Linked DNA regions of Homo sapiens: region 1 is linked to region 2. Evidence: fine-mapped expression QTL. Tissue or cell type: unexposed skin. Region 2 holds a variant in brackets; the other region holds the start of a gene. All regions are shown on one strand. Distances are between the middles of the regions.

The links. PIP is the estimated chance that this variant, and not a neighbour inherited with it, causes the effect.
Region 1: it holds the start of EPB41L2, and the variant in region 2 is fine-mapped to the expression of EPB41L2 in unexposed skin (GTEx, PIP 0.95).

Annotation. Positions count from the first base shown.
Region 1 is chr6:131,060,101-131,068,285 of GRCh38, reverse strand. EPB41L2 (erythrocyte membrane protein band 4.1 like 2) reads left to right here and starts at 5,041. Exons shown (of 20, transcript NM_001431.4): 1 at 5,041-5,131. It overlaps LOC105378004 (a long non-coding RNA gene), which reads right to left and starts at 4,883. Exons shown (of 3, transcript XR_942993.3): 1 at 4,670-4,883. RefSeq lists silencers at 4,805-5,144, 5,485-5,584.
Region 2 is chr6:131,104,500-131,112,684 of GRCh38, reverse strand. The region is part of intron 2 of LOC102723445 (a long non-coding RNA gene); the gene reads left to right. Among named protein-coding and RNA genes, the nearest start is that of AKAP7, 27 kb to the left of the region's middle. RefSeq lists an enhancer at 7,450-7,619. The variant G/A (reference allele first, on the strand shown) is at 4,373.

The DNA.
Region 1 (8,185 bases), 44 kb after region 2:
TACTTTACCTTTTCTACCAGGCTCAGCCATGTATTTTTTAAATGCTTTAAAAAATTACATTCATCATTTTTAGGTGTTATGCCCTGGGAATTTTCCTCCGAATACCGGATCTATCAAATTGTAGGAAATTGAAGGTACCTCACTCATTTTCAATTAGGTTCACTCTTTCAACAAATGTTTACTGAAGAAGCCCTTTATGAGTTGCAGTGCTTGGAACTAAAATACAATGGTACAGAAAGCGAAGTCCCTGCCTTTGCAAAACCTATGGTTGAGTCGTCCTTTTTCATTTTCTGGGTGTGTTCTTCTTCTCAGCTATTGCACCCTCCTGGAAGGTTTTCCTCTGGAGAGAGTGGGATTATAAGCAGTAAGAGCATACATATAACCTTAAAACCCCTATCCTTCTAAGTGTTTTCTAATAAGTAGAACACATTTGTGTGCCTTGGGAAACCACACAAAACTAAACTGAAGAATGGTACTTTGCTAATACCAACCTTCCGCCACACATCTGTTTTGAATAAACGAAGGACCACTCTCTAAGATGGTCCATTTTCCAAAGGGAGGAATTTGTTTGCTTAGAAACGGCAACATTCCAGCTCCAATCCCACTGTCGCCACTATTTCCGGGGGCTATTTTACAAACTAGCCAATCAAGTCTGGGCTATGTAAATATTTCAAGGATATAATCCAGGGGATTACTCTTCTAATTTTCCCCCTGGTACTGTAATTCAACAGCCTCTTCTGCTGCTCTGATTGTCGCTGTTGATGGATTTTACCACCATTTGCTGAGACCACTTACAAATTATGCTCCTCAGGCAAGGCTCCCCAGCGTGGGCCCAAGGAATTTGGCTCGCCTTGTCACACCACATCAGAAGTTGTCTATGGTATTGTGGGGGTAATTCTGTCTGTCCAGCAAAGTCCAATGACACTGCTTAAAGGTCATTTTACCTTCCTCATCCCCACATCTAATTAAGTGGGCAGTCTGCTGACTGCAGGCATGTAGTGGAGTGGGGTGGTCACATGCCAGTCCACTTTTATTAAAGTTTGGTGTTCTGTCTCAATCATTTTCCATAGCAGGACTTCTGCGTATTCCCTGCAAAATAGGAATCTAAAGAGCCCTTTAGGCTCTTTTCAGAGTCTCCTCTTTGCTTTGACTATGTCTATGAATGAGCCTGGAGCCTTCTCTTTTGATGTCTCTTTGTTTTTTTGTTTTTTGTTTTTTGTTTTTTTTTGAGCGGGAGTCTGGCTCTGACGCCCAGGCTGGGGTGCAGTGGCGCCATCTTGTCTCACTGCAACCTCTGCCTCCTGGGTTGAAGCCATTCTCCTGCCTCAGCCTCCCGAGTAGCTGGAATTACAGGTGTGTGCCACCACGCGCTAAAATAATATACATATGTGCTTTCCAAATGTAGCTTTTCTGGGACTTTTATTGGATCTGTACCATTTCTGTTTTCAGCTCTAGGGAGCAATTGATTATGAGATGTCATGAGGAGCAACTCTGAAGACTCTGTTCCAGCTTAAGGGAATCAGCCAGTCCATCCCTGTTTCTCTGTCATTGAGCCTAATTAAGTAGGGTGTGTGTGTGTGTGTGTGTGTGTGTGTGTGTGTGGCAAAACTCCAACTACAATTGAGAGAATACCTCAGTTTGGCAGGCTTGAGATGCATATACCTGTTATTAGCCATAGTTGGGAGTGGCTTTTCCAAAGATGACATCACTTGGTGTGTCTTAGATGGAAAGGAGGTCCTGTGATGCTTTTGATAAAAAATCTGTATAAAGAGTTGCTTGAGGGCCAACTTGAATACCAGACTAGAAAAACATGGTGCCTGTAGTGAATTGCTTACAAGATGTCTGTCAACAATTTTCCCCCTCACTGTACAGACATTCCACGCCTCCTACCAAGAAGCAAAGTCTATGACCCCTCTCCTTGAATTGCGGCTGGCCCTCTGATTTGCTTTGACCAACAGAATGGAGCATAAGTGATGCTGTGTGACTTCTGGGCAAAGCCCTTGCAGGCCTTGCAGCATTTGTTTTTGTTCTCTTGGAAGCTGGGTGTCATGTAAAGAAGTCTGGGTTATCCTACTAGATAGGCCACATAGAGGATGGAGGGAGGGAGCGCGTGCAGAAAACAAAGGGAGACAGAGGGAGAGAGAGAGAAACAGAGAGAGAGGGAGAGAGAGAAAGAGTCTGGAGGATGAGAGTCCATGTGGAGGAGAAATTAGGTGCCCCAGTTGACAGGCAGCACCAACTGCCAGACATGTGAGTGAAGCCATCTTAGATCCTTTATCCACAGTTGAGCCTCCCAGCTGAGCATTGCTTGAATTCCTGCCCCAAAGAACCACAAGCAATAAAATGGTTGTTTTAAGTCACTAAAGCAGGGTCTTGTAGTCCAGTTGAAACTGAGCCAAAGTTGGCCAGGTGACAGAGTGACTCCTGCAGTCATTTGTGTGATATGTTTGTTGCTGTGGCAGTGGAACTGGGATTGCATGAATTCACGATGAAGCTTGAGAATGCCTTAGAAATAGTAGGAGAGGGCATTTTCAGGTCTTGCTGCCTGTGGACCACGTAAAGGAAGGGCAGGTCCTCAACCCAGAGCCACTCCAACCTGGTTTGGGCTTGGCACACAGAAGGCACAAAGATAAAATGATGACTCATGGATATAGTGAGATCAAGCTCTTCCAGAGGCCACGCCTATGGGGGTGAGTTGGTAAGTAAGGGCACTAAGGAGGTCCTGGGTACATTTCTAGTCCATACTTCCAGACTAACTTTGCTTGCACATAGTGCCCAGGATTGAGGCTATTATGGTAAATTTGGATGTGGTAGCTCTCAGGACTAGTACCTATATTCTTCTCTTGTTCTCTGTGTCAGTCCTTTGCCTGTTACTACAGTGTGTCTAGCAGGAAGACCCAATCTTGTTCTACCTAGAGTGTTTTCCTGGGGATTAACATTCTGCCCTTGAACTGCAGCCTGGTAGTCCTGACAGTGCTTCCGCCTGCCTGAGTCTTTGGATGTCACCTATTCCAGGACTTTGTCCTTCTTTCTGTTCAAACCCCTCTTCTCTTCTTGTTAGACTTCCCTGGTTGTCTGGACTACCACCTGTTGTTTGCTAAATCTCTATGATGCCACTTCCATCAGTTTTCTTCACTTCCTTATAGCTTCTGGGACTTGATTTTTCTGCCCTCAGTTCCTGCTAGGTCCTCACTGAATCTGTTCCATTCCATTAAAATGCCAGGGCTATGTAAGGCTGTGTCCAAAAACAGAGTTCAATTCTTCTTTCACACAATAGCCTTTATACATTTGACAACCTTTTTATCACCTTTAATCATCTCTTTAGGCTAAATCTTGCTGGTTCCCACATTTTCAAGGTCACCCATTTATGGTTATAATTTAGCTTATCAATATTTTCTTTTGGAGGGAAAAATTTCTTCTTAAGAGGTGGCATATAGGAGTGATTCATGTACTTCAACGCAGAGTATAGTAAGCATATCCTTTCTTATGAGAAGGGCATTATATTTTATTAACTATGCCTATATTTATGTTATTTTGCACTAGCATTTTAAAGGGGGCTCCATCAGGGTGGTTCAATGTTTTATGGGCCCAAAAGCTTATATGACTTTAGGGACTCTTTAAAAAACACAAAATGAAATACAAAATTATAAAGTTAGTTTCAAGGCTTGTGAAAATGAGAGATCCCGAAGTTTGTTTCATTAGTTTCGTTGTAAATCTGCTGCATATTTCTTATTATGAGAAAATAATAGTATTTTCTCATTAAATTCCCAGGTCTCCTTTACCAGAATTGCTGTCTAATCAGATTTCTGCTCTGTTTTAGCACACCTTATAAAATTTAACTTGTATACTTAGCATATGGGATTGTGATTAAATTAATACATGTAAGGGACTTAGAACAATGCCTAGCACATAAAGCACACAATCAACCTTAACTATTATTATTTGTATTATTTACTAGAAGGACCTTGGCAAATAATTTATCTTCCCAAATCTTTTTGATGTAATGGAGCTCAAACGTGCCTGCCTTTTTCATAGGGTGATTGTGAGGATCAAATGATGATAAAATATGTGAATGTATTTTGTTAACTGGAAGGTATTGTTACTGAGGTTTCATTTGACATTGTTAATTTTGGAAAAGGTTCTGTTTAGGAAAGAAAGGGAGACGACTTTGGCTGTGGTGGAATCACTAAAGACCTCAATAAAAGTGGGAGGAGTAAAAGGGATAAGAGGTGCGTGTGAGGCAGATGCTGGAGGCAGTGAGCTGGACACGTTGTTTGACACCAGCTTGACGTGCAAACCTTCAAAAGATGAAATATATTGAATCTGAAACATATTGACCTCATTGTACAAAAGAAAAGAACCAGAAGGGTAGCGTGTGTGTGCTTGTGGCTTTCCACAATTTAGCCCCAAACTAGGTTTTTTCCAGACTCTTCTTCACCCGTGGTCATGCTCTGCAATCCAGATTCCCAGGCCTCTGCCCAGAGAAATCCTACTTACTCTGGGGAGGCCTTTCCTCCACGGGGTTTCCCCAACCCCTCCTGTCCCTCCCACAGGAAGAATAAATGGTTCCTTTTCAATGCCCTTCCTGTGAAAGCACTTTTTCCACTCTAGACTGAGGGAGACCCAGTTTTCCTTATTCTGCATCTCCAGGCTCTGCTCCAGTGTTTACCTCTAGGAAGGCGCTCAGTGAAGGTTTAGTCAGCAAATGCACTTTGAATAAATAACTTTTAAAAGTTGAGAGGACATTTAAGGCCGGGAATCGCAGTTGAGAACGCCTTGCCCAGGCGCATTAGCTGTCATCCGGGCTGCCCTGAGGGCGAAAGACGTCCTCCACCCCCGGGTCTCCGCGGCCGCGCTTGCCGAATCCCGCGGGAAAGGTCCCCCGCCCGCGCAGGGGCGGGGCCTGGGCGTCGGGGGCGGGACCGCCCGCGGGGGTTTCCGCGCCGGGGGCTCGTCCGGCGGGGTCGCGGGAGGGGCTTCCGCCGCGAGGGGGCGGGGCCGGCCCTCAGAGTCCTCTGACGGCCCCAGTCAGGGAATTTCAATTTGAAACCTAGCGGAGGGAGGAGGCAGGCGCGGCTGCCGGCGGCTGGGACTGAAGAGGGACGGGTCCCGCGGCGAGCGAGCTCCTGAGGTACGGCGTCGGGGTAAGGAGGCGTGCGGGGCTGCACGGGCCGGGCGACTGGTCAGTGTGGGGTTGCAGGGGCGGCTCAGATTTTTCCTCTGGCTGCAGCTGGGAAGCTGATTCCGGGCAGGAAGCGGTGGCGGGACGGTCCCACCGGGATGGGGGGCGGGGAGAGGGGGCCCGGCTTTGGGATTTTCTGCGGCTCCCTCTCTCCTTTCCTTCCCGGTCTCTGCCCGACCCGATTCTTGCCCGGGGGTCCGGGTCCTGTTGCTCCGGGCCGGATCCCGGCTTCGCTGCTCCCCGCGGTCCCCCTCTTCCCTCTTCCGGGGGACCGGGGCCGCGTCCCGGCGGAGCCAGGAAAGGCGGGGGCACGGGGAGGACGCCGTCCCCCCCGGGGTGCCGTGGGCTCAGGTCACGCGTCCGGGCCCCGTGGAGCAACAGCGGGAAAAATCCGGCTCCATCCCCCCCGCGGGGAGGGGGTCGGCCGCGGCGTCGCCCTTCAGGAGGAAGGTTTTAGGAGGGGAAGCGCGGGCCGGCCGCGCGCGTGGGGACTGCGGGAAGCCGGGCGAGGGCGGCGCGCCAGCCCCACGCGCGGTGCGGGTCGGGCCCGCTGTAGGCTCGCGTCCGCGCCCCCAGCTGCCGCCTGCGCCGTCTGGGAGCTGCGGAGAGGGACGCGTGTTTCGTGCTCCGATCCTTACAATTCCCACACCCAGGCCATCTCACCACAGATGGCTTGTTTTTTCTCCTCCTGCGCCTGGGGGCCGAGGGTTGGGAGCATTTTTAGGTGAGCAGCGGGGAAGGGCGAGGAGAACCTAAAGGAGCGCGACAGGGTTGAAGTCGGCGTCTGGGGACGCCATCCCCAGGCGCAGACGCTGCCCCCAGCAGCCTGAGGTCTGTGGTGGGACATCAGTTATGCTTCTCTAGATCGCTCACCTCCCCTGAGGTCAAGTTTTTTTTTTTATATATATGTATAAATAAAATGAGGTTTGGTGAGAAGAACTACTGCCTAGAGTCTATTATTTTGGGGAGGGGTCTGCGTATGGAGCCCTCCCTACGGACCCGGGTAGTCTTTCATTGAATTGCCCCATCAACACCACAGCTGCCCTTAATTTTAAGATCCCTGGGTGGATGGGAGAGAAGGTGGAATCTAGAGGAGCTGTGGCTATATTTTCGCTTTTCTGAATCACATCTTTCCCCAGTTTCTTGAACTTCTTGCCTCTGAAATGGCATGTGTGTGCCAGGCGTCTTGTTCCTCTTGTTACTGTTATTTAAGCTGTTTTAAAAAAACGACTTTCGCGGTTTTCCCCTCAGTTTTTCAGTCTTTATTTCCTCCCCCACCCTACGTTTTTATTGTTTTTTTCAACGGAATACATTATTTATCTGGTCTCTTTATAACGCTGTTGAGAATTAGCATTTCAGTTGGTGTTCTGTCAGATTTCACCTTGGACTTAGCAGTTGAGGGAAACTGAGTCAGTTTCTATGCTGCAGGGGCTAGGATTTAGAATTCTCAAGCTTTGAACAGGTTTCAGTGGGGGAACGAATAGTGCTTAATCCTATTCAGTTTCCCTTTGCAGGCTCATTGCTGTGAGAAATCACTGGGTGGCTGTTGCAGCCACTGATGGGGGCTGCATTGCAATGCAATCTTGAATTGTGATAAGGGCCAACTGGCTCCATCCGTTAGGCTGTGAGTTTGACACAACTTTTGAAGAGCTATGCTGTGTCACCTGTCAGAGCTCGAGTGGTCATTCTTTTAATTCAATTTAAGAACCACCATCAAACTTCAGATATCTATTCTTTGGAGGTTATTGGAGAACTGTACAAGTGGTAATGGCTTGGAACAATGGTGTGGATTTAGCGCTAATTTAATCCTATCCTGTCTTCCTCACTTCTTGGGCAGAATTCCCACTGAAGTCAGTAGTGGTCTTGTGTGCAGACAGACTGCCGAGAACAAGAGGCTGCTCATTTAGAGTAACGGGAAGGGACGGTTTCTTTCCTTTTAAAACATCCCTCTGTAAGAAAGACTTAGTCATAACAGTTCTTTAATCTTTAACCACTAGTCCAAGTAGTTGAGAGCACTTTTTGCAAAAACCTTCGAAAGAAAATTCGTGGATGAATTGAGCCACGTCCCTCGAACTCTTCATATATCTACGTTGCATGGTGATCCTTAAAAAAGATTAAAAGTGATTTTAAAAAATCAGTTAAAGCTATAATTTCAGTAAAATTTTTCCTAACTTTTGTAAAAAATGTAAACTGCCAGGGAGCATTTTGTAGCAACTAAGTGTGTATATTTCAAATCTGAAATTTAAGTCCAAGTAGAAAGAAGCAAATTTAATTTAGGGGATGAATCTGAAGAGAGGCCACCAAAAAAATAACCATCTAAATATAAAAGAAGGAAGTTCAGATATCTCTTGCTGTTTTTCAGGAGATAGCTTTAGGGCAGTTTGCTCACTTTCATACCTGTTCTTAACGATTTACTGACTGCCTGGGTCCATCATTAGATAATGCTAGCACTTGGAGGTTTCCAAATGAGTTTTGTGCTGATCTGAGTTGCTGAGCTAGTTAGATCCTTGGCTTCTTAACGTAACATTCTTGTGGCTTACCCTTTCCAAATTACTAGTTCTAAGGAATTGAGTTTAGAAAACCTAACCAGTGACCAGAATGTAAAAATAGGTATTTAAAAATCAGAACCATGTCCACGTGTACTACCCAACCACTTGCTTTCAACTAAAAATACTTGCAAAGATGACAAAGCAGTCCACAACCAAAATATTTATTGGTACAATTTCTCTGTAATTAGTAATATTGTACAGTTATGTTTAACATCAGGTTCTGCCCTGAATCACCCCTCTCATATTACTGTGGCTGGTGAACTACAAAGGTTGTATCTTTGCCATTTCATTTAGGAATATAGGGTTTATATTTTATATAGCAGAATGCTAAATATTTTTGAAGGTTTTGTTTTGTTTCTGTTTCTACTCTGTCTCTACTAAAAATACAAAAATTAGCCGGGCATGGTGGCGCACGCCTGTAATCCCAGCTGAAGACATGGGCCTTTTTCTTTCT
Region 2 (8,185 bases):
GCATGGTGAAACCCCGTCTCTACTAAAAATACAAAAATTAGCTCAGCATGATGACATGCACTTGTAGTCCCAGGTACTCAGGGGGTTGAGGCAGGAGAATCACTTGAACACCGAGTGGCAGGCACTAGGTTGGCTATAATTTTAAAAGACAGACAATAAAAAATGCTGGCAAGGGTGTGGGGAAATTAGAAATGTCCAGTATAGCAAATCCACAGGGACAGAAAGTAGATAGGTGTTTGCCTAGGGCTGGGAGAGGGGTGTGGCTGCTAAGGGTTATGGGGTTTTATCTTTGGAATGATGAAAATGTTCTGAAATTAGATTGTGGTGATGGCTGCAAAACTCTATATAAATATTCTAAAAACTATTGAACTGTATACTTTAAATGGATGATCTGTGTGGTGTATGAATTGTATCTCCATAAGCTGTTAATTTAAAAAATGTAATAAATATGCAAACATATCACTTTCTAATTATTTTACAACATTTTACTATTGTCTAAACTCCTGAGGTTATTTACCGAAAGATGATGCCCAAGTGGCCCCAGGACATAGAATCAAATTGTGTATGATATTAAAACAACAAGAATTGTTTATCTCAACTAATATCTTGTTTATATCTTTGTAACAGACAGCCAGATGGTAGTGAGTGCTAATACTGTGTACTAATCCTTTAGGAGGACTAGTTTGCTTGAGGTTTAGACACAAACAGGAATGATCTGTGCCATTATAAGAAATATAATGATGTCATGAAGGGCTTTATGATAAATAAAATGATTAGAATATGGTATTAAAAATATGTAGCCATTTATCCTATTGCATTTCATCAAGAAATATTAAATATTATAAAAAATGCAAAAATGAATTTTCTCATTCTTGCAAGCAGTCAAGTCTCAGCCGGAAAAATGGAAGTCAATTTAAATATTTAAAGATAAAAGGCTTTAATTTACAGAGAATTAGGTATAGGTACTGTACTTATAAATTTTTGCAAGGGCATAAGGAATGAAAGTCGGAGGAGCTGCCACCAGCTTTCACATTCACAGTCCAAAGAATCTGAAACTTCTTGCTTTCATGCAGAAGTCAGGAGGATGTAAGAGACTGAAATCAATAGTCATGATTGCCCTGAAGTCCTGGGGTGAACGACACAAGGGAATATAGAAGTTGCTGCAAAAAGTCACAACTTCGGGCGGGGTACAATGGCTCACATCTGTAATCCCAGCAATTTGGGAGGCTTGAGGTGGTACGATTGCTTGAGGTTAGGAGGTCGAGTCCACAGTGAGCTATGGTGGTCCCACTGCACTCCAGTCTGGGTGATGGAGTGAGACCCTGTCCCCCCCCCAAAAAAAATAGTTACATCTTCTTAAGTCCACATGTCAACCAACACAATTGAAGAAAGAGGAATGGATTCTGTCTTCTGCCTTGTAATTTAAGCACAAGTACACCTCATGGGCAGAATCTAAACTGTATTTGGTTTACAGGGACTATGAAAAGACAGTTCTCATTCATCAGCCCCTGACATGAAGGGGTGAGTATCAAAGGAAATAGAAATAGTGCTGAGTACCAACAAATCATATATGACTTATTTCCCTCAAGGGTAGTCAGGTAATTTTTTGAGACTGTATATAGCATGAGTTTGGGGTTGTTCTTATTGATAGGGGATGCAAGTTGCAGAAATTTAGTTTTTCCCTGAGATAACATCTTGACATGTCTCGAACCATTAGATTCCTAGACAGTTTACCAAGTTGGCAGGCCCTGAAGTTTGTTGGGAGATTATTTTCCACCTTCTATCACACATATAAATATATATGTGTGAAATATATATATATATAAGAATGTGAATTCCTCTCACTTGGTCCAGTCATCATTATGTCACTAATGTAGTGGGCCAGTGTGAAGCCCTACAGGATGACAGGACTATCAAAGTTCCTAAGGGCTAGATTAAGACTGAGAGCTAGAGACTTGGCATAGCTCTGAGACAGGACTATTGTGTACTGCTTACACTTCTGTGTAAATGTAAGGGGCTCCTGTGATCTTTACTTATTGGTATAGAATGGGAGTCAGAAGACTAGAGTCTGCAGACTGGACATTTGTTTTGTAAGTAAAGTTTCTTTGGAACACAGCCATGCCCATTCATTTACATATTGTTCGTGGCTGCTTTCACCCTACCATAGCATATTGAGTAGTTGGGACAAAAACCTTTACAGACCAGCCAAAATATTGCCCTCAAACTCAAGATAAACAGAAATAAAACAAAGTCTTAAATTTAAATCTAAAACAAAACCATGGCCCCTTTATGAAAAACATGGGCTAAAATGTATTAATAATGGTTAAAACCAAGTGCTTTTTTTTTTGAGAGATTTGCAATAATTAATACCTATTTAAGTGGGTTTTCCCCCTAGGTCTTTATATTCTAGTATAAAACAGCCAGAGCTGGGCTGTTCTCTTAACCTCTGATCAAATAAGCCTGTTTAGAAAAATCTATGTGTTTTGCTTATATCATTGGGCAAAGTAATTTGTAATATATGATTGACATAATAAATCATCACTTCTAATAAAGCACATTTTTAGAAAAATAAAATTTCTGTGCACCTGTTTTAAAAAGCTCCAGTGCACTTTCCAGCTCAGTCAGAATCCTCATTTGGAATTAACTGGGGGTCCCTGGTTCCTGCTGAAGTTACATATTGACCTGAATGAAACAGGCTGGCCTCCAGCATAGACTCCAAGCTCTGTGTTTATTGAGTCAAGAGTAAGGATCTTCTCTCTCTTAAATCTAGTGGTGGGCAGGGAGAGGACAGGGGCCAAAGATAATTGACTGACCTTTTAATTTATATTGCCATTTGCAGACACTTTTCTTGTATTTTTGAATTCTTATTTTGTCACAATAATTTGAAATTATATAATGCTTCCTAGGTTAGTGAGCATTTTCAGAAACATCATTTGATATCCATATCAACTCAGAAAGTATTTTCTTCTCACATGTCATAGATGAAGTTCAGAAATAGTCAGTAAATCATCCAGGTTCACAGAAAACAAGACCAAAAGTTACTAATACTCACCAAGCATCCATTAGATGGCAGGCACCATCTCAAGCCAGAACTCATATCTTGACTTTTAGACTCTGTATTAGTCCGTTCTCACACTGCTATAAAAATAATATCTGAGACTGGGTAATTTATGAAGAAAGAATTTTCATTGACTCACAGTTCCCCATGGCTGGAGAAGCCTCAGGAAACTTATGATCATGGCAGAAGGGGAAGCAGTCACCTTCTTCAGAAGGCAGCAGGAGAGTGAGTGCAGAAAAAACTGTCACCTTTAAAACCATCAGATCTCGTGATAACTCCTTCACTATCTTGAGAACAGCATGGGGGAAACTGCCCCCGTGATCCAAACACCTCCCACCAGGTACACCTCCCTCCACATGTAGGGATTACCATGCGAGATGAGATTTGAGTGGGGACACAGAGCCAAACCACATCAGACCCCAAGTCTAATATGGTCTGAATGTTTGTGTCTCCCAAAAATTCATGTGTTGAAACCTGATGTCCAATGTGATAGTATTAAGAGTTGGTGTCTTTGAGAGGTGATTAGGTGCCATCTATGAGAAAGCAGGCTCTCACCAGACACCCACTGAATCTGCCAGCACCTTGATCTTGGACTCCCTACCTCTAGACTGTGAGAAAAAAAAAAACCAACTGTTATTTACAGTACCCAGTTATGTACTCAGTTATAAATAGGTCAGTTTATTGTATTTAGTTATAGCAGCCTAAATGGATTAAACAAAGTTTAATATTCTTACTATCACAATGTATTAATTCCCATTCTAGTGAGTACTGGGGATAGTAGTGATGGTGGTAACTTTTAAACATACAAAAATATGTCAAACACTACCCCTCAAACTGAGAATAAGATGACTAGGAGAAAGGAGACATAACTATCAAACTTTAAGGCAAATGCTGTGTATAAAGTTATTGAATGAATGGTTTTAAAAGTATTCTTATACTACTGCATGAAGAATTAAGCTGAAGAGCAAGAAGAACTTTTTTCTTTCTTTCTTTCTTTCTTTCTTTCTTTCTTTCTTTCTTTTTTCTTTCTTTCTTTCTTTCTTTCTTTCTTTTGAGATGGGGTCTCGCTCTGATATGGTTTGGCTGTGTCCCCACTGAAATCTCAATTCGAGTTGTATCTCCCAGAATTCCGACACGTTGTAGGAGGGACTTAGTGGGAGGTAATTGAATCATGGGGGCTGATTTTTCCTGTGCTATTCTTGTGATAGTGAATAAGTCTCATGAGATCTGATGGGCTTATCAGGGGTTTCTGCTTTTGCTTCTTCCTCATTTTTCTCTTGTTGCCAATGTAAGAAGTGCCTTTCACCTCTCACC[G/A]TGATTCTGAGGCCTCCCCAGTCATGTGGAACTGTAAGTCCAATTAGACCTCTTTCTGTTCCCAGTTTCAGGTATGTCTTTATCAGCAGCATGAAAACAAACTAATACACACTGTCACCCAGGCTGGACTGCAGTGGTGCAAACATGACTCACTGCAGCCTACACCTCATGGGTTCTAGCGATTCTCCTGCCTCAGCCTCCCAAGTAGCTGGGACTGCAGGCACACATCACCAAGCCCAGCAAATGTTTGCATTTTTTGTAGAGACGAGGTTACGCCATGTTGCCCAGGCTGGTTTTGAACTCCTGAGCTCAGGCAATCTACCTGCCTCAGCCTCCCAAAGTGCTGGGATTATAGGTGTGAGCCACGGTGTCCAGCCTTCAGAAATTTTTAAGAGTTTAGTTGTGATATTCTGAAATATCTAAGCCCAGGAAGTTGTGTCTCTGGATAATTATTAAGTTTTTGTTTGTTTGTTTTGTTTTGTTTTGTTTTTTGAGATGGAGTCTCACTCTGTCACCCAGGCTGGAGTGCAGTGTCATGATCTCGGCTCACTGCAACCTCCACCTCCTGGGGTTCAAGCTATTCTCCTGCCTCAGCCTCCCAAGTAGCTGGGACTACAGGTGCACACCACCACGCCCAGCTAATTTTTGTATTTTTAGTAGAACGGGGGCTTTACCATGTTGGCCAGGCTAGTCTTGAACCCCTGACCTCAGATGATCCACCCACCTCAGCCTCCCAAAGTGCTGGGATTACAGGCATGAGCCACTGCACCTGGCCTAATTATTACTATTAAAGAGCAAACTTATCTTTTGGGAATGATTCCAGCGTAGTCCTGCTTAAAGTCAGCAGCTGCATGAAATGTTTCCCTTCCAGTTCTGTTATTCTATGATACTCCCTCTAGGAAGAGGGTGTTTTTCCCTCCACTTTATCTCCTATACAGTCATTGTGAAAGACTTTGTAATCTCAGATAAGAATATGCTTTTTGAAGTATGTGTCATCAAGCTCTGTGCAAATGTGAGGCAGAAACAAGTATGCTTTTCCTTGGCTTCTTGCTGAGGTCACACACTACCAGATTTGCCAGAGTTATTCACTCATTAATTTATCTGATAAACATTTATTTTACATACACTATGTACTTGATTTGTAGATTATAAAACAACTTTAGTAAAACCATTTCCTATCTAATAGATTTTGAGTGGCCTTGTCAAAACCAATTCTAGTGACACATATGAATTATTATCTTCATTAGAAAGCAGTTTCAAGTGCCTGGAACCCTAAGGCTAGGTAATACATGAAGGAAACTAAACAAGCATCCTTTTGTCATTCAGGGCAGGGGTCAGCAAACTTTTCTGTGAAGGGCCAGATTGTGAACATTTTAGGATTTTAGGGCCATATGGTCTTTGTTGCAATGACTTAAATCTCCCTTGCAGTGCAAAAGCAACCATACAAAGTATGTGAATGAATGAACATGGCCATGTTCCCATGAAACTTTACTGATGGGCTTAAATTTGAATTTCACATAGTTTTCATGTAACACAAAATATTACTTTTTTGACATTCTAGAAACCACTTAAAATGTGAAAACCATTCTCATCTTGCAAATCATACAAAAACAAGGCAGTGGATCATCATTTGCTAATCCCTGATCTAAGGAAAAAAGAAAATATAGTTGTAGATGAACAGAAAGGACATGCAGGCAATATAATAAAATGTCAAAATAAATATAAAACTAAAAGGTAAATATTTAAAATATGTTAATGTCAAGAGTCTGAAAGATGATAAAGTGTTATGTGGGTTTCATTTCTGGATGGAGCAGATTTGGCTCTCCTTAGATGAGTAATTTCAGCCATCGGTAGAGAAGGACTCCAAATGACTGCATTCTAAAAGATAAAAAATAAGGACTTATTTTCAAATGTGTCACAGCGCTTAGCCTTATGTTGTCTGGAAGTTGAAGTGCTTCCCACACAACCCTCTGTACTTAGCTACTATTTTTGTTTTTTAAATAACTGACCTGAATTTCCAAAACTATGTGTTACTTGCAGAAAGTATGGTAGACAAAGGAGAAATGGTATATTACAAGAAACCTCTTGATAAGCTCTCTTAATAAAATCAAACTCTAGCCATCAAGGTTTAGAATGGAGGTAGGGTGTTCAAGTGAAGACTGTGACTAGAGCTAGGAGTGGGGACTGGAACTCACAGACCTGATTGGAGTCTCTAGAAGCTCCCCACGTTGACCATCTCCTGTGCCTGGCCTCACATCCTTTTGCCTGTCTTTAGTTTAGTTATTACTCCTGTTGGAAACAGCTTCATGTCTTATCACCCAAGAACAACTTTCCTCAGTTTTATTTATTTATTTATTATTGCTTTTTATTTTTGAGACAGGGTCTCACTCTCTTGCCCAGGCTGGAGGGCAATGGTGCCACCATGGCTGTCTGCAACCTCAGCCTCCTGGGCTCAAGCAATCCTCCCACCTCAGCCTCCAGAGTAGCTAAGACTGCAAGCGTGCACCACCACCACATCCAGTTAGTTTTTGGGTTTTCTTGTTTGTTTGTTTGTTTTTGTTTTTGTTGTTGTTGTTGTTTTGTAGAGACAGGGTCTCGCTATGTTGCCCAGCTTGGTCTTGAACTCCTGGCCTCAAGTGATCCTCCCACCTCAACCTCCCAAAGTGTTGGGATTACAGGCGTGAGCCATCGAGCTCGGTCCAGTTGAACTGTTTAACTCTCATGTTTTATCCTGGGACTATCCTATCCTGGGATAGCATAAGGTGGGATGTCTGCAGAGACCTACCTGGCATTCAAGCGAGTGCACACTGGAAGTGTGAGGGAATCAGTGCCCCATGGACAGTCCCCTTGCCTGGTTGGGACAGGAGATAGTGAGTCAATCAAATGTTCCCCTTTTCCTTCCCTTAACAGACAATTCTGAGGCTCCTTGGAAGGTCCTGGCAAGATAGCATCCTTTTATTGGCTTTTTTTTTCCTTTGAGGGTCAGTTTAATATTCCAAGCTGTTTTTACTCATAATACTTTTGGCACCAAATGTGTGGGTTGTTTCCATGCCAACAACCAGTTCTCCAACCTTCCAGATACCAACTGGGTATCCTACAATTGAATTCAATTCCTACAGTAACTAACTGGAGTCGTGTCAGATTCCGCAGACTCACTCCCACAAAACTGCCTTCGTTTCAGATGCCAGTTGCAAGTATCTTGCTTCCATCAGTACTTCTGACCAACTGACTATTAATCACAGGTTCCTATGACCCCTTCCTCAGGTTTTATAATTTGCTAGAATGGTTGATAAAACTTGGGAAAAGACTTTATTTATTATCACTGCTAATTACTAAAGGAGAGAAATGAACAGGCAGCTGAGGAGATACACAGGGAGAGATCTTGAAGAGTCCTGAGCACAGGAACTTCTGTCCCCGTGGAATTGGGGTGTGCCTCCCTCTCAGCATGTAGATGTGTTCTACAACCCTGAAACTGTCTGAATCGTATTGTTTAGGGGTTTTATGGAGGTTCCATCATGTAGGCATGATTGATTAAATTTTGGCCATTGGTAATTGAACTCAATCTCCAGCCCCTCTCCCCTCCTCAGAGATCTAGGAATGGGGCTGAAATTTCCAACCCTTTAATCACATGGTTAATTCCTCTGGCAACCAGCTCCCATCCTAAAGCTATCTAGGGGCCCAACAAGGACTGGGTGCAGTAGCTCACGTCTGTAATCCTAGCACTTTTGTAGGTCAAGGTGGGAGGATTGCTTGAGCCCAGGGATTCAAGCCAGTCTGGACAGCAAAGCAAGAACTATTCTCCACAAAAAATTT